Homo sapiens: one gene and its partner. The protein of the gene in region 1 interacts with the protein of each later gene in a biochemical or structural test. Each region holds a gene or a part of one and is shown in the gene's direction. Other genes may lie near its edges.

The links.
Region 2: of the proteins of NPLOC4 (region 1) and GZMK, one has a biochemical effect on the other in vitro, tested with the Homo sapiens proteins (one study listed by BioGRID).

What each region holds. Positions count from the first base shown.
Region 1 is NC_000017.11:81,561,482-81,571,935, reverse strand, and holds part of NPLOC4 (nuclear protein localization protein 4 homolog), read left to right. Parts: intron 1-2,824; coding exon 2,825-2,920; intron 2,921-4,402; coding exon 4,403-4,519; intron 4,520-5,333; exon of another isoform or gene 5,334-5,465; intron 5,466-6,328; coding exon 6,329-6,431; coding exon of another isoform or gene 6,432-6,616; exon of another isoform or gene 6,617-7,689; coding exon of another isoform or gene 7,690-7,736; exon of another isoform or gene 7,737-7,956; coding exon of another isoform or gene 7,957-8,015; exon of another isoform or gene 8,016-10,454. UniProt on the Homo sapiens protein: The ternary complex containing UFD1, VCP and NPLOC4 binds ubiquitinated proteins and is necessary for the export of misfolded proteins from the ER to the cytoplasm, where they are degraded by the proteasome.
Region 2 is NC_000005.10:55,015,840-55,027,255, forward strand, and holds the start of GZMK (granzyme K precursor), read left to right. Parts: upstream 1-8,416; 5' UTR 8,417-8,483; coding exon 8,484-8,547; intron 8,548-8,820; coding exon 8,821-8,968; intron 8,969-11,416.

The sequences.
Region 1 (10,454 bases):
AGGGAGGAGGCTGCAATTTAAGGCACCCTCTGCCTTGAGCAGTGCCCACCCCAGAACAGGCACCCAGGAGGTGGTTGTAGAATCACTGAGCATGCGGTGTTGCTGAAATGCTCACAGTTTTAAGGGCTTTTTGTTTTAGTCTCAGGTTTTTATTTCCTTGACGTCAACCTAGGGGTTAACTGTCCCCATACTAAAGTACAAAGGACCACTGACCCCAGGCTAGGCAGCCTCTGGAAGGCAGCGAACCCCCATTGCTTGGGTCTCCAGTCACCGGAGCATCAAGCAGTCTTGTCCAGATGTGCTGTGCTTGGTGTGTGGCTGTCAGCTGTCCTGCACGTGCAGGTGCTTGCCCTAGCCCCAGCACAGCTGCCACAGCCCACAGTGTGTCTGGGTCACTCCGTCCAGGGTGGTCCCCAGGGGACACACCTGTAACTCAGTGTTCTTGAGTGAGGGCTCAGCGTGGTTTACTGGGTGGAACTCCAGGAGCCACAAAGGCCCCTGGCTCTTCCACATCTTCCCTGTGTCTCAGCTCCTTTTTGGAGGCATTTTATGGTCATGGAGACATGGCTGTACCATTGGCCACAGGGCAGCAAGGATGGCAGGATGAGCCTTTGCAGAAGCCAGTGCATCAGCCCCACCGGAGCTCTGTCCAAAGCGGACGGGAGGCGGCTCATTTCCTATGCTGCTGCCACGCCAGGATCTATTCAGGCTGCATTTGAAATTGGATGGGCACGTGATTCAGGCAGTAAAATATCATTGCATTCGGAACAGCAGGTCCCCACGAGCCAAGCCCATCGATGCACCATTCCAACTGACAGCTCCCGAGAACATATTTATTACCTAGGCCGTGAAGGCATCTGGTTTTTAGACTACCTAGGGTGTAATTAAGATGAAAACAGATTGATGGAGCATGCACCCAGGAGGAGCAGGCATGATTTAAAACCAGCTTTCTCAGGTCTTCTACCCCAAGCAGCCTCCCCACTTCTTTCCTCTTCTTTTATAAAGGAAGTTAAGTTTTTGCCTTAGTGCAGTTTTTCAGAAGTACTTGTTTGTGGGAGAGCATTCTGCTCTGTGATGCCCAGGCTCCTTGACCCTGTGGAAGTGAGGCATGGGGAGTCCTTGAGAGCAGGTGCCCAGAGAGGTGTGTCAAGCTCCATGCCCAGCCCTGGGCCACAGGCGCTGGCCTCAGCCAAGGTTCTTAAACCTTGGGATGGGATGGCTGGGCAGGCAGGAAAAGGCACCAGCCAGTGTTACTGGGGTTTCTTTGTGGGTTCTGGGGGCATCATCTGGCTGATAGACGATGGGTAGGGTAGGGAAATGGCTTCAGTGTAAGATGGGAGCTGATGCCCTTCCTTGGGACATCTGGGATGGGCTGTGTGGACTTTGGTTCTGTTCCCCTCCAAGGGCCAGTTACAAGGCCAGCAAGAGCCCCCGTCAGTCCCACTAGCTCACTCACTAGCACGTGTTCTGGGGGTGCCGCCTTCTTCATTTCTAGGCCTTCCCAAGGGACGCGCCTGAGCAGGCCAGGCTTTTGTCTCTGCAGGAGGTCAGCACCTCCCCTGTCTTCAGCTGGGACCCAGCACTGTGTGTACCAACACTATGTGTACCAGCCCCGTGCTGGGCACCCAGGAGGCGAGTACTCCGATCATCTTCATCCTGAGGAAGAGTAAAGTGAGGCCCAGGATCCCTAACTGACGAGGCCATGTAGCCGACACGTGGCACCGCGGCCCGAGTCTTCATGACCCACCCCGCCGCTTGCCCATGAAGGGCCAGCTCAGGCCAGAGATGCTGCTGGTGGCTCAGCTGTCCTTCCACAGCGGCTGGCGCTGGCACAGCAAATCCTGGGCCAGCTAGCTCAACAACTCACTGCCTTTGCTGATGCAGAAAACAGACCAGAACCACACTCATTCTTTAGAAATAGTCCCAAAGGAACCAGAATAGTTCCCCTAAATCTGGAAGAGGTGTGACCTCTGCTGCTGCTGTTGTGTTGCAGAGAAAAGCAGCATCAACTCAACTCGGTGCTGCTTTGGGGAGGGGTGTCTGTCACGAAGAATAAAAGTGGTATTTCTATTGATTCTTGCACATTTACCACTGTCCCTGTAGCATCTATTGATTATATCTTAGGTGCAAAGTGCCCTCTGTTGTCATTAAGGCCTGTCTGAGCCAGTGAAGGACTGAAGGACTTAGCTGGCCTTTGGGTATCAGCTCTGAGGGAGAGAGAAGAGCTGAACCCTGTGTTCCTCAAGGGCCTTACATTCACCCCTGCCTGGAAAAGCCCACAGCTCCGTGGAGTGGCTCCCAGCATTCAGAAGGGGCTTAGTGAGCTGCTGAAGGGTGCTTTGTGTCTTGAAAGCTGGCTGATTGCTCATTTGCCCTCCGAATCCAATGACACGAATCTCTCTTGAGCAAAGTCAGCTCCTGGGGCGGCCTCCTGGCCCTTCCGTTCCTTTCCTGTCACCTGGCCAAGGGGCCAAACCAGCCTTTCGTTCCTCCATAGCAGAGGGAGAGAACCTGTGTGACTCTGAAGGGAAGCTGTGCCACGAGGGGAGTCCCAGTGCCCTTTTTGTCCGACGTCGAGGCCGGTGCACAGGCCGGAGGCTGCCCGGATATGGTGTAGTTTGTCTCCAGGATGGCGGAGTTTCCAAGTGTTCGTTTAGAGATGACACTAATAGATAACGGTTCCCTTTGATGGAGAGCTTGTAGAACATTCTCAGAATTGCTAGGAGTCGTTAATTTGGGCTCTGGGAGATGCTCTGGGCTGGCTGGGAGTCGGCCACACCATTTTCAGCCTCATTTATCATGGGTTTGTGTTTTTCTTCATTAGATCACAACAACTTTCCCCAAGGATCCAGTTTACACTTTTTCTATTTCGCAAAATCCATTTCCTATTGAAAACCGGGATGTATTGGGTGAGACACAGGTGAGCTCTTTGTCTTTAGAAACATAATTTAAGGTAACTGCTGATTGTTATCTAGTGTCAGTATTGTTTTTCCAGAAAACATCAAGCTTTCAAATGCTCCCGATTCATTCTTGTGACAGGCCAGCTAGGGCCTACTGTGGGGCACTGCTGGTCACGTGGACGCCCTTCCCATGGCTAGGTGATGGACGGCCACAAAGGCTAATCCCCTGACGTCCTGACTGGCCACATCTTCAGTGGACCTCGTAATTTTCCCAAATGTGTTGCTTTGTGTCTTCTGCCAGCAGCCTCGTCACTGTTGGTTTGGCCTGGCCCCTGCCTGGTCACCTGCTGCCCTTCTTAGGCACCTTGGGGCTGTGTGGCCCCTCTCGGCCTGGCCTCGGCTTTCCCGTGTGTAGTGTTGATCTGCTGCTTAGCGTGGCTCCCGTGTTGGCCTCTGCTCTCACTGGCAGATCAGGCCAGGTCCGATTTGCTGTCACGCCTGCATACTGTGTAGACAGGCTGTGTACACATGGTTGTTCTTAAATCATAACTTGCTAACAGACATTTCAGAAGGTGGTCAAAGAATGTCTATAATGAGGTTTTCTTCAGTGGCTGACAAAGCTTCTTCTATGCTTTGATCCCCTCAGTGCCCATCCGCCCAGGGGACTTGGGGTGCTCACAGAGGTGCAAAGCCAGTTATTGGGGTGCACTCTTGAAGCTCTGTGTTTGGTTCTGCTGAAGATGTCCGTGCTGCATCACGGCTGCCCTGCACATTCCTCCCTCTTGCTGCCCTAGATGGAGAATACAGCTCGACAGGAAAAGTCAGACCTGTCTCCCTGCCGTGAAGGGGGCCCCAGGCCCCTCCCGCAGCCCACTCTCCACCGGGGGACCAGGGCGCATTTCCATGTTTGTGTCTCTGTCTGAGTCAGCCTTTTTTTTTTTTTTTTTTTTTTTTTGGAAGACAGAGTCTCACTCTATCACCCAGGCTGGAGTGCAGTGGTGCGATCTTGGCTCACTACAACCTCCACCTCCTGGGTTCAAGCGATTCTTCTGCTTCAGCCTCCTGAGTAGCTGGGATTATAGGTGCGCGCCACCAAGCCTGGGTAATTTTTTTTGTATTTTTAGTAGAGACGGGGTTTCGCCATGTTGGCCAGACTGGTCTCGAACTCCTGACCACCTGCCTGCCTCGGCCTCCTAAAAAGTGCTGGAATTACTGTGTTAGCCTCCACACCTGGCCAGTCTGAGTCAGCTTTATAAGCATGTCTCCTTGCACATCTGGGTAGTCAGGTGTGCTGAGAGCATCTTCTTGGGAGAAGAGAGCAAGAGCTTGCTTTGCAGCTGCCTGCTCCTCTTTCTTGGACCCTGTTCGTGGTTGCAGAGGCAGAGGGAGAGGTGTCTCAGCATTCAGTGTATTGAGTTGCGTCTTAGTAGGAAACAGCTCTGTTTCGGGGTCTGGCACTGGGGAACTGTATGGAACATTCATGTTTATTCCCATTCCTCTAGGACTTCCATAGCTTGGCCACCTATTTGTCTCAGAATACCTCATCTGTGTTCTTGGATACCATCTCAGATTTCCACCTCTTGCTGTTCCTGGTCACCAATGAAGTTATGCCTCTGCAGGTGCGTGTCCAAGTGTGGTGTCCACTTGAGCAAGTGGGCTTTGGCTGCAAAGAGACGCCTGTGTCTTGCTTTCTTTCCTCCCAGACCAGAGCATGATTGGGAAACTGGGTCAAAGCTCGGGGTCACAGGTTGTCCCCCTCATTTGTCCTATGGGCAGAGTGTAGGCAGCAGCTTTTCACAAGAAGCTTGTTGATAGAAAGATTAATTTTTTCACCTTTAGCATTTCCATTGAGTGTCTGCACCTCTGTGAGGAAGTACGGTTTCATCTGTTACAATCGAATGGGAAGCAGAGGTGATTTAGCTCTGCCTCCAGCATTAGAGTTAGACAGTTTAAAAAATTCCTGTTCTAACAGTTTCAGAGTCACAGCCTCTGCTTTTTACTCATATCTCCCCTCCTCCTAAATCAACTCTGGTTTTATTGCCTTGGCCCAGAAGGCTTGGCCAGCTTCCAGACCCCAAGCTCACAGCTGCACAGTTGGCATTTTTAAGAGACACCGTTGGGGGAGAAGAGGGCGAGTGCTTTGCAGAAGTGGCTGCTCTGGGTAGTGGGGGCCAGTGGGCAGCAGCCCCCAGGAGGTTCTTGCCGTGTGTAGGGGTCCGACTTTGGCTTTTTCTTCACTGTTCAAGCCAACAGGAAATGCCAAAGAGAAAGGAGCAAATTCTTTCTGAGCTGCTCCGCCACTGACTCAGAACTTTTCCCTGAAGGAGACAGAATAGAGAGGCTCCTCCTCCCCCGGCCTTTCTCTGTCAGGAAGCCTATAGCTGTTCTTGTATCCTGCTAGTTTATTTTGTGTCTGTATTTTGTCTCAAAACCACTCACTCGGGTATTTGACATCAGGCACCCTGTGCCTCTTCCCTGCCTGTGCCTTCCCTAGTCAGCCCAGGGAACTGCACCTCCTGCTCCGAGGTTCAGCTGCTGCCCATCTGTCTGGACAGGTGGTGAAAGGTGAGGCTCCCTCTACACCAGAGCCACCTTGCTAGTATACTGCACTATTTTTGCAGTCATCTGTTGGAAGACATTCTCTGGAGGTACTGAGAGCTCCTGAAGGCTTTATCCGTTTCTCATATATGAATTATTTTTTTTTAAGACGGAGTCTCGCTCTGTTGCCCAGACCGGAGTGCATTGGCGCAATCTTGGCTTACTGCAACCTCCGCCTTCTGGGTTCAAGCGATTCTCCCGCCTCAGCCTCCCGAGTAGCTGGGATTACAGGTGCCCGCAACCACGCCTGTCTAATTGTTGTATTTTTAGTAGAGACGGGGTTTCGCCACGTTTGCCAGGCTGGTCTCAAACTCCTGACCTCGTGATCTGTCTGCCTCTGCCTCTGAAAGTGTTGGGATTACAGGCGTGAGCCACTGCGCCCATCCTTAATGCATTAATCCCCTGCAGTTTGACTCGGAAGGCTAGGATAGAGAGTGCATTTTTCCAGACACGAGAGGAGAAAGAGGCAGAGGGATGAAATGTGAGGGAGGAGGACACGTCTCACAGTCAAGACTTCCGCCCTCCATCCCAGCCTCCAGGACGAGAGGCATGAGCTCCTATCCTCCGGGCTGTTGAGCACCGTCAGCACAAGGCAGAGGCACAGATGCCCGCTTGGGCCTATTTGGGAAGAATTTAAATTCTAGTTCAATTTAGCACTTGCGTTTATAGATGTAAGTTGTGGCAGTTTGCATTTTATAGTGATAGCCTGTAAGATTTTTAAAATGTCCTCAGAAATACGTCTTGATGTTGGGGAGAAAGAAACCTGTTCTAGCAGGAAGCTGCTCACCTTAGGCACAGCGAAGAGGAACCTTCCTTTTGGCTTCTTGTAGGACAGCATCAGCTTGCTGCTGGAGGCCGTGCGGACCAGAAATGAGGAGCTCGCCCAGACATGGAAGAGGTCTGAGCAGTGGGCCACCATCGAGCAGCTGTGCAGTGAGTACCCCCACCCCCTGCCCCGGCACCCCGTGGCTGGGGCCGGAGAGCAGCCCACTCTGCACAGCTCCCCACTGCCGGTGGTGCCCTGGATTCCGCACCCAGCTGCATCCTGGCAGGTGCCATCGGCAATGCAACGAGTAGAGACTCGGCCTCCCTGCCAGGCACGTGGCAGGCTCCGGTGATGGAGCAGACATGTTGTCCAGGCCGTACGTCTTAGGTACACAGCCCTGTAAATTTTATAAACCTGTACATCAGAGATACTAATCTCCAGGCATCCTAGGAGCACTTTGAACATCATTGTCTTAAGAGAATCAGAAACTTTATGGAAGCGCCGGAAGCGTGGGACCTTTTGGTCTCCTTGAGAATTTCCCTTTAGTGCTTAAAGCTGTAAGGAGGAGAAGCCTGCAGCATCCATGTTGTTGCTGGTGGACACTACGGAACGGACCGCAGGCATTGCGTGTCTTCCGGACCCTCAGTCACCAGGTCCTGAACGATTCCCCACTCGTGAGAACCTTCTGTCAGCATTGCTGCAGGGACTCCTCACGCACCGTGGTGCCTCGTGCAGCCCGAGTGCCCTGAGTCCCTGCAGCTGAGAGCACCAGAGTGCCCGGGAGCTACGGCCCTGGACAAATGCTAGAATCCTTCTGTTAACACAGCCTTCAAAAGACACATCAAACACCTTTATACCATTTCCTGTTTTTTTTTTTTTTTTTGAGACGGAGTTTGGCTCTTGTCACCCAGGCTGGAGTGTGGTGGCGTGATCTTGCCTCACTGCAACCTCCACCTCCTGGGTTCAAACGATTCTCCTGCCTCAGCCTCCTGAGTAGCTGGGACTACAGGCATGTGCCACCATGCCTGGATAATTTTTGTATTCTTAGTAGAGCCAGGGTTTCACCATGTTAGCCAGGCTGGTCTCGAACTCCTGACCTTGTGATCTGCTTGCCTCTGCCTCCCAGAGTGTTGGGATTACAGGTGTGAGCCACCACGCCCAGCCGAGGTTTTCTTTTCACACAATTCTTTGTTTATTATTTTTATTTTTGTAGAGACAGGGTCTCACTCTATTGCCGAGGCTGGAGTGCAGTTGCACAATCGTAACTCACTGCAGCCTCAAACTCCAGGCTCAAGTGATCTTTCTGCTTCAGCCTGCTGAGTAACTGGGACCACAGGCTTGCAACACCACACCCAGCTAATTCTTGGGGCTTTGTTGTTGCTTTTTATTTGTTTGTTTTTTAAAAATAATTTTAACTTATTTTAGATTCACAGGGTACATGTGCAGGTTTGTCACCTGGGTATATTGCCTGATGCTGAGGTTGGGGTATGATTGATCACATCACCCAGGTACTACACATAGTACCTAATAGTTTTTCAGCCCGCCCTGCTCTTTGTGTGTGTGTGTGTGTGTGTGTGTGTGTGTGTGTTTTGAGCTGGAGCCTCACCCTGTCTCCCAGGCTGGAGTGCAGTGGCGCAATCTTAGCTCACTGCAAACTCTGCCTCCTGGGTTGAAGCAATTCCCCTCCCTCAGCCTCCCGAGTAGCTGGGATTACAGATGTGTACCACCACACCTGGCGTTGCCATCTTTATGTACGTGAGTACCCATGTTTAGCTCCCACTTATAAATGAAAACATGTAGTATTTGGTTTGCTGTTCCTGCATTAGTTTGCTTAGAATAATGGCCTTCAACTGCATCCATGTTGCTGCAAAGGACATGATTTCATTCCTTTTTATGGCTGCAAAATTTTTTAATATTTTTGTATCAATGAGGTCTCACTGTGTTGCCCAGACTGGTCTCAAACTTTGGCCTCAAGCATTCCTTGCACCTCAGCCTCACAAAGTCCTGAGATTATACCTGGGAGCCACTGCACCCAGCCCTTTGATGCAGTTCTAACAATGACACCAGTCTTTTTTTTTTTTTTCTTTTTTGTTTCCCTTTTAGAGACAGGGTTTCACTCTGTTGCCTAGGCTGGAGTGCAGTGGAGTGATCATAGCTCACTACAGCCTTCAATTCCTGAGCTCAAGCGATCCTCCTGCATCAGCTTTCGGAGTACCTAGGAGTATAAACATGAGCCACTACACCCAACTAATGTTTTTGGTTGGTGTTTTTTTTTTTTCTTTAAGAGATAGGGTTGGCCGGGCCCGGTGGCTGGCTCACACCTGTAATCCCAGCACTTTGGGAGGCTGAGGCAGGTGGATCACAACGTCAAGGGATTGAGACCATCCTGGCCAACATGGTGAAACCCCATTTCTGTTAAAACTACAAAAATTAGCTGGGCATGGTGGCGAGCGCCTGTAATCCCAGCTACTCAGGAGGCTGAGGCAGGAGAATCACTTGACCCAGGAAGCGTAGGTTGTAGTGAGCTGAGATCGTGCCACTGTACTCCAGCCTGGGCGACAGAGCAAGACTCTGTCTCAAAAAAAAAAAAAAGATGTGGTCTTGCCATGTTGCCCAGGCTGGTCTCAAACTCCTAGGCTCAAGTGATCTTCCTGCCTTGGTTCCCAAAGTGCTGAGATTACAGCTGTGAGCCACTGCACCTGACCTTTTTTTTTTCCCCCCTCCTTTTTTTTTTGAGACAGGTTCTCACTCTGTCACCCAGGCTGAAGTGCAGTGGCATTTGAGGTCAGTCTCACCTTGACCTCCCCAGGCTCAAACAATCCTCCCGCCTCAGCCTCCTGAGCAGCTGGGACTACAAGCATGTGCCACCATCCCTGGCTGATTTTTTAAATTTGTTGTAGAGATGAGGTCTCACTATGTTGCCCAGGCTGGTCTTGAACTCTTGGGCCCAAGCGATCCTCCCGCCTCAGTGCTGAGATTGCAGTGGTAAGCCACCATGTCCAGCCAACTCTTTAATAATAGGCAGTTCTGACTGGTGTAAGTTCTGACTGGTATCTCACTGTGGTTTTAATTTGCATCTCTGATGATTAGTGATGTTGGGCATTTTTTCATGGGTTTTTTGTTTGTTTGTTTTGAGACAAAGTCTTGTTCTGTTGCCCAGGCTGGAGTGCAGTAGTGTGATCTCAGCTCACTGCAGCCTCCACCTCCCGGGTTCAAGCCATTGTCCAGCCTCTGCCTCCTAAGTAGCTGGAATTACAGGTGGCTGCCACCACACCCAGCTAATTTTTTTAGTTTTAGTAGAGACAGGGTTTCTCCATGTTGGCCAGGCTGGTCTCAAACTCCTGACCTCAAGTGATCCACCCACCTCGGCTTCCCAAAGTGCTGGGATTATAGGTGTGAGCCACCGCGCCCGGCCCTCATGGGTTGTTTTGTTTTGTTTTGAGACGGAATCTCACCCTGTCACCCAGGCTGCAGTGCAATCTCATGATCTCCACTTACTGCAACCTCCACGTCCTGGGTTCAAGTGATACTCCTGCCTCAGCCTCCCGAGTAGCTGGGACTACAGGCGTGCACCCACGCCTGGCTAATTTTTATATTTTTAGTAGAGATGGGGTTTCACCATGTTGGTCAGGCTGGTCTGGAACTCCTGACCTCAGGTGATCCACCTGCCTCGGTCTCCCAAAGTGCTGGGATTACAGACGTGTATACACAAGACACAAAGATCAGCTCAGGATGGGTCATAGGCCTAATGGTAAAAGGTAAAACTATGAAGCAGGCTGGGCATGATGTCTCATAGCTATAATCCTAACACTCTAGGAGGCCAAAGCTGGAGGACACTGTAGCCCAGAAGTGTGAGACCAGCCCACACAGCATAGTGAAGCCCCGTCTGTACAAAAAAACAATATTAAAAAAAAAAGAATTAGCTGGGCATGGTGAGTGGTCCACGCCTATAATCCCAGCTTCTGGGGAGGCTGAAATGGGAGGATCCCATGAGTCAGGAGGTCGAGGTCACAGTGAGCCATGATTATACCACTCCAGCCTGAATGACAGAGCAATACCCTGTCTTAAAAAAATAAAAACTGTAAAACAGTTATTAAGTTGAATCTCTTCAGGGCCTTGGGGTACGCAAAGATTCTTTTAGGCAGGATGCAGGACCTTGGGGTAGAACACAGAAAAACACTGGCATAAAA
Region 2 (11,416 bases), on another chromosome or scaffold:
ACTCATGTTATGAGGCCAGCATCATCCTGATATCAAAGCCTGGCAGAGACACAACAAAAAAACAATTTTAGACCAATATCTCTGATGAACATCAATGCAAAAATCCTCAATAAAATACTGACAAACCAACTCCAGCAGCACATCAAAAAGCTTACCCACCATGATTAAGTGGGCTTCATCCCTGGGATGCAAGGCTGGTTCAACATACAAAAATCAATAAACATAATCCAGCATATAAACAGAACCAAAGACAAAAACCACATGATTATCTCTATAGATGCAGAAAAGGTCTTTGACAAAATTCAACAGCCATTCATGCTAAAAACTCTCAATAAATTACGTATTCATGGGACGTATCTCAAAATAATAAGAGCTATTTATGACAAACCCACAGCCAATATCTTACTGAATGGACAAAAACTGGAAGAATTCCCTTTGAAAACTGGCACAAGACAGGGATGCCCTCTCTCACCACTCCTATTCAACATAGTGTTGGAAGTTCTGCCCAGGGCAATCAGGTAGGAGAAAGAAATAAAGGGTATTCAATTAGGAAAAGAGGAAGTCAAATTGTCTCTGTTTGCAGATGACGTGATTACATATTTAGAAAACCCCATTGTCTCAGCCCAAAATCTCCTTAAGCTAATGAGCAACGTTAGCAAAGTCTCAGGATACAAAATCAATGTGCAAAAGTCACAAGCGTTCCTATACACCAATAACAGACAAATAGAGAGTCAAATCATGAGTGAACTCCCATTCACAATTGCTTCAAAGAGAATAAAATATCTAGGAATCCAACTCACAACAGATGTGAAGGACCTCTTCAAGGAGAACTACAAACCACTGCTCAATGAAATAAAAGAGGATACAAACAAATGGAAGAACATTCCATGCTCATGGATAGGAAGAATCAATATTGTGAAAATGGCCATACTGCCCAAGGTAATTTATAGATTCAATGCCATCCCCATCAAGCTACCAATGACTTTCTTCACAGAATTGGAAAAAACTACTTTAAAGTTCATATGGAACCAAAAAAGAGCCTGCATTGCCAAGACGGTCCTAAGCCAAAAAAAAAAAGCTGGAGGCATCACGCTACCTGACTTCAAACTATACTACAAGGCTACAGTAACCAAAACAGCATGGTACTGGTACCAAAACAGAGATAAAGACTAATGGGACAGAACAGAGGCCTCAGAAATAATACGACACATCTACAACCATCTGATCTTTGATGAATGTGACAAAAACAAGAAATGGGAAAGGATTCCCTGTTTAATAAATGGTGCTGGGAAAACTGGCTAGTCATATGTAGAAAGCTGAAACTGGATCCCTTCCTTACACCTTATACAAAAATTAATTCAAGATGGATTAAAGACTTAAATGTTAGACCTAAAACCATGAAAACTCTAGAAGAAAACCTAGGCAATACCATTCAGGACATAGGCATGGGCAAGGACTTCATGACTAAAACACCAAAAGCAATGGCATCAAAAGCCAAAATTGACAAATGGGATTTAATTAAACTAAAGAGCTGCACAGCAAAAGAAACTACCATCAGAGTGAACAGGCAACCTACAGAATGGGAGAAAATTTTTGCAACCTACTCATCTGACAAAGGGCTAATATTCAGAATCTACAATGAACTCAAACAAATTTACAAGAAAAAAAAACCCCATCAAAAAGTGGGCAAAGGATATGAACAGACACTTCTCAAAAGAAGACATTTATGCAGCCAAAAGACACATGAAAAAATGCTTATCATCACTGGCCATCAGAGAAATGCAAATCAAAACCACAATGAGATATCATCTCACACCAGTTAGAATGGCGATCATTAGAAAGTCAGGAAACAACAGGTGCTGGAGAGGATGTGGAGAAATAGGAACACTTTTGCACTGTTGGTGGGACTGTAAACTAGTTCAACCATTGTGGAAGACAGTGTGGCGATTCCCCAAGGATCTAAAATTAGAGATACCATTTGACCCAGCCATCCCATTACTGCGTATATACACAAAGGATTATAAATCATGCTGCTATAAAGACACATGCACACGTATGTTTATTGCGGCACTATTCACAATAGCAAAGACTTGGAACCAGCCCAAATGTCCATCAATGATAGACCGGATTAAGAAAATGTGGCACATATACACCATGGAATACTATGCAGCCATAAAAAAAGGATGAGTTCAGGTCATTTGTAGGGACATGGATGAAGCTGGAAACCATCATTCTCAGCAAACTATTGCAAGGACAGAAAACCAAACACCGCATATTCTCACTCATAGGTGGGAATTGAACAATGAGAACACTTGGACACAGGAAGGGGAACATCACACACAGGGGCCTGTTGTGCGGTGGGGGGAGGGGGAAGGGAAAGCATTAGGAGATATACCTAATGTAAATGACGAGTTAATGGGTGCAGCACACCAACATGGCTCATGTATACATATGTAACAAACCTGCATGTTGTGCACATGTACCCTAGAACTTAAAGTATAATAAAAAAAATTACAAAAAAAAGAATATAGTTTGGGATTATCTAGTGTAACTAGCAATTCAAATATATGATTGTATTTTCTATAATATTTACATCAAAGCCTTAATTTTAAACTTATTTGCACATATTTCTGTAACATAACTAATGCACTGAATATTCCCATTCATATTGTCCTTATGTGGTATTATGGTTAACAACTTAAGTCCTTCATATTTCCTACTGGAGTATATATAGTCTGTGAACGATCTATGCATCTGGAATTTTTGTAATTCTCAATGTGATTTGCTTATACCTAGTAGAATAAGTTGAATGTGGTATAAATTTATAAACTAATTCATTCATTAATTAAAAATAATAAAGAAGATACTTGGTAACTTCTCAAAAAAAAATTTAGAAGATTATGCTTTTGTTGATAATCTCTTCTCAGCCTGCAGCCTTTTTATCAAATACTTGCTATAGCAGTTGTGTTCTTAGCATATCAAACTTATGTTTATTAAGCCTTGCAAAAATGTAAAATGTGCTTCATTATTTATCCTGTAATAGTCATCAAAATTATTTCTAAATATCATTTATATACCAGGTCCCTAGTGAGGTAGTTTAACTAAAATACTGTTTTATTTGTCTTCATATTGATTTGCTCACATTGAGCCCACTTATTGTTAAATTTATTTATAAGGACCCTTCATATATTAAAGATATTGTCTTTGGGGGGAAATGCTTTCAATGTAAGTGACAAGCATTTTGCCATATGTCTTTGGATATTGCCTATGGTATTTTCTACCTTACAAAAGTCTTCTATGCTCTAACTTATTGATAGTTTCCTTTATGCCTTCCTCTCTTAAACATTATTTTTAATTTACCATCTCATTTAGTGTATATAATTATTTCATTTCCTAATAGAAAAAAGGGTGGGAGGGGAAGGTTGTATGTGTGTGTGTGTATGTGTGTGTGTTGTTTGGTCACTTTTTGGAAAAAGTATATCATATCTAGATTTCTACTTGAATTGATTCTCAATGGAAAATTAGTGAATACTGAATCAATCGATAACACTTGCTGTGTTCCAGCTTGACCATAGCAATTACTGTGTTTCCCTCATTAATGAATGTGGTCGTTCATTTTGAAATTCCTACTACTTTGCCTGCTGTGACTTCGTTTATTTTGTAAAATCATCCTGACTAGTTAAACAATTTAATTGCTTTCAGCATGATGAGATTATTTCTTGTAATGTATCTGTTTCTATTGTAAAACAATGATAACATATTTGGCTTTGGGGCACAGTACTGTATCACAGTAGTGTATCTGAGATGTTCAAATATAAATGGAAGTGTTCCATTATAAGGCCTCCCATCCTCAATTGATCATTTTTCCTTCTTTATTCAACAGTATTTATTTTCTTCCCTCCCTTCCTGCCTCCACCTTTCCTCTGGTCTTTATTACCTGGTCCTTCTCTGGTATTTTTCCCTTAACTTGGCCTACATATTTACCCGTTTTCTCCCTATAATACTGGTAGGCTCATATAGTCCTCACCTTCCTCTGTGCAAGGCAAGGGTACCTACGAGCCTGGAGCTGAAAACCTTCCTTTGGCAGTCATTACTGTTGAAAGGATTTCCACATGTGCAAATCTTTCAGGACAAGTAATTGCGGACAATGTGAGTGATCTGTCTTGAGTCCAGCGACATCACAGGGACCACCCCATGTGGCACTTTCCTCATCCCACCCATAACATTTGAACTTAGTTAAAATGAACATCAAAGCCTGCTCTAAAGAAGAAAAGAAAAAGGAGTCATAAAAGGGCAGTGTAAGGCCTGGAGACAAAGTTGAGATAGGGACAGTGTATGACCAGGCAGCCAGCACCAGCAGTGCTGGGACATCCCTATTTGCCAAGTCCTCAAGGTATTTTCCTGATTACTCCATATGTGAGGATCCTGCACTTAAGGCAATTCTCATCCATTCCAGTCACTTCATAGCTGACGTGGAGAGGAGTAAAGGAAAAGGAAGTTGAAGTACTATTGTGTGACTTAACTCAATAATGATGGTTTAGAAAACGTATCTTCATATTTATGAAAGGAAGATTTAACATGCAAAATATATTCTGATTTAAAGTTGAGATAGAGGAAGACAAAACAAATTTCCCTCAATCTCACCTTTGCCACCACCATCATTCCACCAAGAAGAGGCCCTAGAGCAGCCCTCTGAAGTATTTACATTTAAGTTGCTTAGGAAAAGGCAGTATTCCAGGTGCCCCAACCCTTATTACAGCCCCAGCTCTGAGTTGAGGGGTACTTTGCTTTCCTTGCCAACTGCCCTTAAGCTCATTCATTTTAAGGACCTAGTGGGAGGGATGGCTGTAATCTGAGGTGAGATTTACATTTTCTTGAGAACTTCGGACTTAATATCATTATATAGCACCCCAATATCCTTCCCAAGCCCAATTTTCAAAGCTGCCATAGTTTCACTATGGGTGTTAGCAGATACATTTACCAAATTAGCTAAGCCATTACTGGACAGAAGTCAAGGCCTGAAGGGTGGTGGGCTACAAGGGAGGGATCCAGTGAAATTCTGCCAAATCCTGATGTCAAGTGCCAAGGGCTGGGGATGGTTGGATAGCTTGGGAAAACTTGATATTGAGAACATTTTTCAAAGGAATGTAAAAGGGAATAAATGGGAAGAGCTTGAAACAAATCTGCTTTGCACTTATGTCTACAGAGCAGTGTTTCTCAGACTACCTGTGGGAAAGACCAATGTGTTTGGAGTTTTAGTTTGTTAATTTGTTTGTTTTTAGTTTCAGCCCATTGTGAACTGATACGTTTATACAACACAAATAAATAGAAAAAAGTAATTAAATAAAAAACAAAGGCATACAAAATACACACCCAATTTTTATTAGATTGGACAAATTTTATTTCATTAATAAAATAAATTAATACAGTGCCATGTTAAGTCGCTGTTACAGTTTCTAAACTCTGGCTCTCAATTTCTGTCCCCATCTTGCTCCAAATCGGTAACAAAGAGGTTCGGAGACTGGCACAGGTCTGCGGGCCATGCTTTGATTGGCATGGCTCTAGGGGGTGTGGCTTATAAATCTGACAGAGCAGGTGTCTGGGCTGTTGAAGAAAGGCAGTCCAAGGGATAGAACCACACGAGGCCTTTGGAGCAGTGGCACAGCTGTTCTATAAGGGTCTCCTGAAACACAGGAGAAGCAGAAACAAAACATCTCTAAGAGCAGCAAGAAAGACAGCTAAACACAGCAAAGAAGAGCCACAAGGCTATGACGTGTGAAGCCAGCCCTCCTCTGAGCACAGCCTTGCACTTGCTCAGTCCGGTACAGTTGCTGTAAAGCCATCCAAAGCAAACATGGCCCTCCCTGCAGCAGACTCAACAGAACAAAAACCAACACCCAGAAATAAATTAGATCGCCGAGCTCATCATGTTACACAGCCCACTGTTCTCAAATCCAGAATCGTGAATATAATAACAAATGATACTATTAACTGGCAAATCGGTCTAAAGCCAAAACCAAATAACTCATTACTATTAACCAACATGATTCTCAGAATTTTCTAGGTCAGCTACAAGAAAGAGTTATGAGACTCTTCCCAACTGAACTAAATCTCACCCATGTCTAATTACACGCAGTGTGTATGGCTAAATCCTTTTTCTCTTCTGCACAGCTAGCTTGTGTCTCAGAGCCCCTAAACCCCCAGGGACTTCTCAAAGGAGGCAGGCATGTAGCCAGGTTGAAAGGAACATAGAGCCGGGAGCCAGCACATAGGAGCTTAAGGGCCACCTGCTAGCTCGGTAATCTCAAGCAAGTCCCTGAATTTCAGTTTATTTATCCATAAAACAAGACTAATGACAACCACTTCCCTGGAAATACAGCTAAAAACGTTCAGCAATTTGTACAACGCTATGTGGACATTAATCCTTACTACTCAGAAATAAGCAGCTGAGAGATGTTTGTAACCATTCCCATTTCCCCCGCCACACACACACACACACACACACACAAAGCTTCGTCCTTTACAATTTATTTCTTCCTTAGAGTTTGGATCACTTCTACCTGTCACACACCATCTTCCTTACGATCCCAGCATCACTGGGATGTAGCAGGGAACTGACGCCATCCTGTCTGCCTTCCAATGTGGAACAATGGCACACAGTAGAGCATCCAAGGTACATCAACAGTGACAAAGATGACTTGAAAATTCACAGGGACATTTGAGTGGGAGTAATAAGTTTGGTTTATTAAGCTTGTGGCTTTTCTTAATCTGGCTCCTCCTTATCTCACCTTCTGCTCTGACAGGAAGTCACTGCTCTGCGTTGGTTTTGTTCATTCTGTTTAACATGTAGAAAGCTTTACTGTTGCCACACACCTGTACAAGGAAAGCAGGTTTTTTATAAAATTCTGTGTTCTGGGAGGGTACTCATTCACATACAACTTAACATACAGGGAGGTCAGGCAGGTGATTTGGTCTAGGTCATAAGCTGTGTTGCCTTGGGCAAATTACTTAGCCTCTTGGAACTTATTTCTTCCATTGTAACATAAGTTGTCCTGCTTTCCTCAAAGACATAGACATGAAACCATAAATGATCATATAAAAAGAATTTTGGAAATAAGGTATTTTACTTATATATTATTAAGTTATAATGAATAATACATAATTATAGTATTATTTTTTATTATTCCTACTCTTTGTGCTAGAAAACAATTTGAAAGGAGTCTCTTGCAATCTGCCGAGCATAATAGCTCTGGATTTTAATTCTCCTTTCTAAAATGAATGGAAGATAAAATGCATACCTCTTAAAAGAAAGATCTGTTGATTTAATGCAAATTTTGATCAGTGTTACTAGGAAGTGATTGGCATTCTGATGCGTGATCTGTTTGTATTCATTTTATATTTGCACTGCTGATCAGTGTCTGGCACAAACAGAATCTTGTAGAATCTTGAGTCTAATACCTTTTGTATTGAAGGCCTGGCAATGCATTGTCATCTGTTCCTGGGAAGAATTACAAAATGCAGTCCTTTATTTTTAAAAGACATTATTATTAAGTCCCTGGAAAAACACATGGCCATTTTCAATTAAAAATGAGTAAAAGAGAGACTCTGAATCAAAAATAGTTGCCAATGTTCACCTTTAACAACATTATGAAATCTCACAAAAATGTAACTAAAATTTAACCAAATTTGGGCAAACTTAGAGAAACGACATGAGTAGGGATGTTTGCTGCAAAACATATGGTTTTCTCTGGTTGGTGCTCAGGCTTTAGCTAAGCCACATTGTGAAGTAACCATAATCTGTGCAAGGTCCATGTCTCTCTTCATCATAAATCTATGTCCAAATGAAAAAGAGAGAAGAATGAAATATGATAGGCACCATTTTGTGCCAGGAAAAATAGTAAGTATTGCTTGAGAGCAATGGACATCTTTGAACTCTGTCTGCAACTTCATTACATTCTTATGGCATGGATATTTTTCATTTATAAATATTATATACACATATAGTATAAATTTTCTTTATAGCATAAGTACTCTGATACAGGTATTAGAGATGGTATCTCCAGATATGAGTTCTTTATGGCATACATACCTCTCCCAAAAAAGTGCTAAAAGCAATTAGCCGGATGTGGTGGTGGGCGCCTGTAGTCCCAGCTACTCGGGAGGCTGAGGCAGGAGAATGGCGTGAACCCAGGAGGCAGAGCTTGCAGTGAGCCGAGATCGCGCCACTGCACTCCAGCCTGGGCGACAGAGAGAGACTCCGTCTCAAAACAAAACAAAACAAAAAAGTGCTAAAAGCACAGACCTGAAAGTCCCCAAACTGATACATAACGTTTACACCTAGGTGTGAAAAAAAATCTTACCCCTAGAGCACCTGTGGTGAGAAAGTCAAAACTTACAAGAACAAAACTCAGTCTTCAGAATCTTCTTCCTTCATCACAGGATCAACACATTTCATCTGGGCTTCTTAAATCTAAATCTTTAAAATGACTAAGTTTTCTTCCTTTTCTCTGTTTTTCCTAATAGTTGGGGCTTATATGACTCATGTGTGTAAGTATCTCCTATATCTACATGTAAACATTAAATGAATTTCTACTGACTATATTGTTATATTATAGATGAAAATTATTTTCACAATCATTCCTATCTTTCTGAACTGTAATGTATTATACAAATTTTTCATCAGTAAAATTATTGTAGCTTTTAGGTAGGGTTATTGTTGTTTTTTAAGCTTTGAAAATAATATAGTGACTGTCATTGGAAGAATTACATGAAACAGTAGTTTAGATCTTTTGTGTGAAACCTTTTGGTCTACTTTTGTAGGTTTCAATATGGAAATTATTGGAGGGAAAGAAGTGTCACCTCATTCCAGGCCATTTATGGCCTCCATCCAGTATGGCGGACATCACGTTTGTGGAGGTGTTCTGATTGATCCACAGTGGGTGCTGACAGCAGCCCACTGCCAATATCGGTGAGTCCTCCACACTTTTCCAGACATGTGTTTTTTCTGAAAGTTATTATAGGTACAAGAGAAGCTTACCTCTCCTGAATGAGAATTTGATCTACTGTTAGCTTCTGTGGTTACTGACCAACTGGTGGCGTTTATTTACCTTCTTCCACATCCACGCTTTCTGTCTTGGGTTTTCCTTTTCAGAGAGAACTGAGCTGCTTTTCCCAGGCAAGACATTAGACAAATTCAAGTCCTCTGTATAATGCAGGGAACACAGCAACAGTAATACTTGAAGCAGCAGTACTCTTGACCTTGTTAGATCACACTGCTCAAAAGGAAATCAGACAACCTGAGCTTGCTCTGTGCTCTGAGCTTCCCCATTTTACAAAGGGGTAATAATCATATCATACCTGCTTTGTGGGTTTTGAGAATTAAATAGTATCTGTTTAAGTATTTTAGCATGCTTGGCACATTTAGTAAGCACAAAAAAATTGCAGCTATTATCATTAGTATTATACGCATGAGAAGCCTACTTTGCCACTCCTAACAGTAGCTACCTAACAGTAGCTACTCACCACTTACAACTTTCCTAGGTGGAAAAAAACAAGTTATTGATGACTTCTAGAAAGAGAAAGATAATGAGAGAGTTATTTTCTAGGATACTTAGAATGAAAGCTTTTCTGAAGACAGAGTAAAACCTTCCAAAGTCCATTTCAGCCTAGGATTCTCTTACTTCAGCTAATAAAGCACAAAACCCCTCTTGGGATGCTGCAACCATCACAAAAGGAAATGCCAGTAGAAAACTAATTTGGTATTTGTTGTTTTGTTTGTTTGCTTGGGTTTTTGGTTTTGTTTTTTGTTTGTATATATGTTTCCTTATGTTTCTTACCTAATAAGCTGAAATGGAGCCTTCTCCTTTTCTTTCACTTAAAGATCTCTCTTAGCTGTAATGGTTTGCTCTCCAGGCATTGTCTATATCTAAACAGAACAATTGAATTGATTTGCTTTTCTATGCTTTGGGGGTTTTGTCTGATTACCCCATTTAAATGGAACTGTTTGATCACAAATTGGAAGTTTTGAAGCCTGCAAACTGGGAGATCTTCTGCTATCTCTAAATAGCAAGCCACTGATTTCCAATTTAATATGGTTACTTCATTTACACAGGGTTCTTGCCCTCATAGAAATCACACTCTCATCCCCATCACTTCTCTCTTCTCCAGGGCATTTGCCCCCTCGAGATCAGAGAGACAGAGTGGGGAACTGTCAGCGAATGTTCATTTGATGCAAAATATGCACATCTTCAAATATGCTCATAATACACATTCAAATGGTCTATAACCTCCCCAGACACAGAGCTTGACTTCTAAATGTTCAACAAACTTTGGATGGAAAGAAAGAAATACACTGAAAGATCTTTCTTTCTTTCTTTCTTTCTTTGGCTAGGCCTGAAACATGGTGTATGAAAAAGTGCTTCACTAGCCATAAAGTGTTATAGGAAATTAAATAATATCACTAAGTTGAATTTTAAATTTTGTCAAGTGGATTTAACTCACGAGAAGCGGATTCCCAAATTGGGGAAAGAGATTATTGACAAAAGACTGGAGAGAGGTCTTGGAGTTTTTTGTGTTTTGTTTTTTTTTTCTTAAAACAAACTATTGCTAAATATCATTTTAAATGGCTGGGGTATAAAGAACTGCAAAATATGTAGATCAAATTTCCTCTACAGGACACTTGGGTGTAAAAAGTAGGCAGATCGGTGGTTGGAAAAATATTAAGCTTTATGAAATTCAAAATATTTACAAAATAGCTCAATGGTGGCTTCCCACAAATGTACTCCCCAGTATCCTGTGGGAATAGTTTGCCCCAAGCCTCTCTCTCAGCAAAATTTTGAAGAGGGCCAAACCTGGGAGTGCTCCCTTCTCACCAGCCATCCACACATCTCCTCCCTCAATATTCTGGCCCCTTTATTAGTTGCCATGTCAAATATAAAAGGAAATTGATAAAAAATGTCCTGTACAAACTTATTTTCAGCATTTTAACTTACCAGAAGCAAAACTCTCACCAGCTGTTGTACCCTGTTCTCCTGATTCTCTCCCAGGCCCCTCTCACAGAGCACTTCCTCCTGCCCCAACCTGCCTAGCAAGTTGTTAGATGGAACCTTCCACAGCCCCTTCCACATGGCCTCACTCCATCTCAAATGCTCAAGGCTCCTGGAACAAAATGGTTCAATGTTCAGGCTCTAGATTCAAGCCAACTGAGCTTTAATCCTGCCCGAATTTGCCTCCTGGAGGCAAAGGTCCTCAAGTTTATTCGTTTACCTGAACCTCAATTTCTTCATCTATAAAATGGGGATTGTCATAATACCTATCTCACCACGCTGTTGTGCGGTTTAAATGAGGGAAGCTTTGTAAAATGCTTAGCACAGAACACAAAGAACTTAATAGATGTTATCGAGTATTGTTATACAAT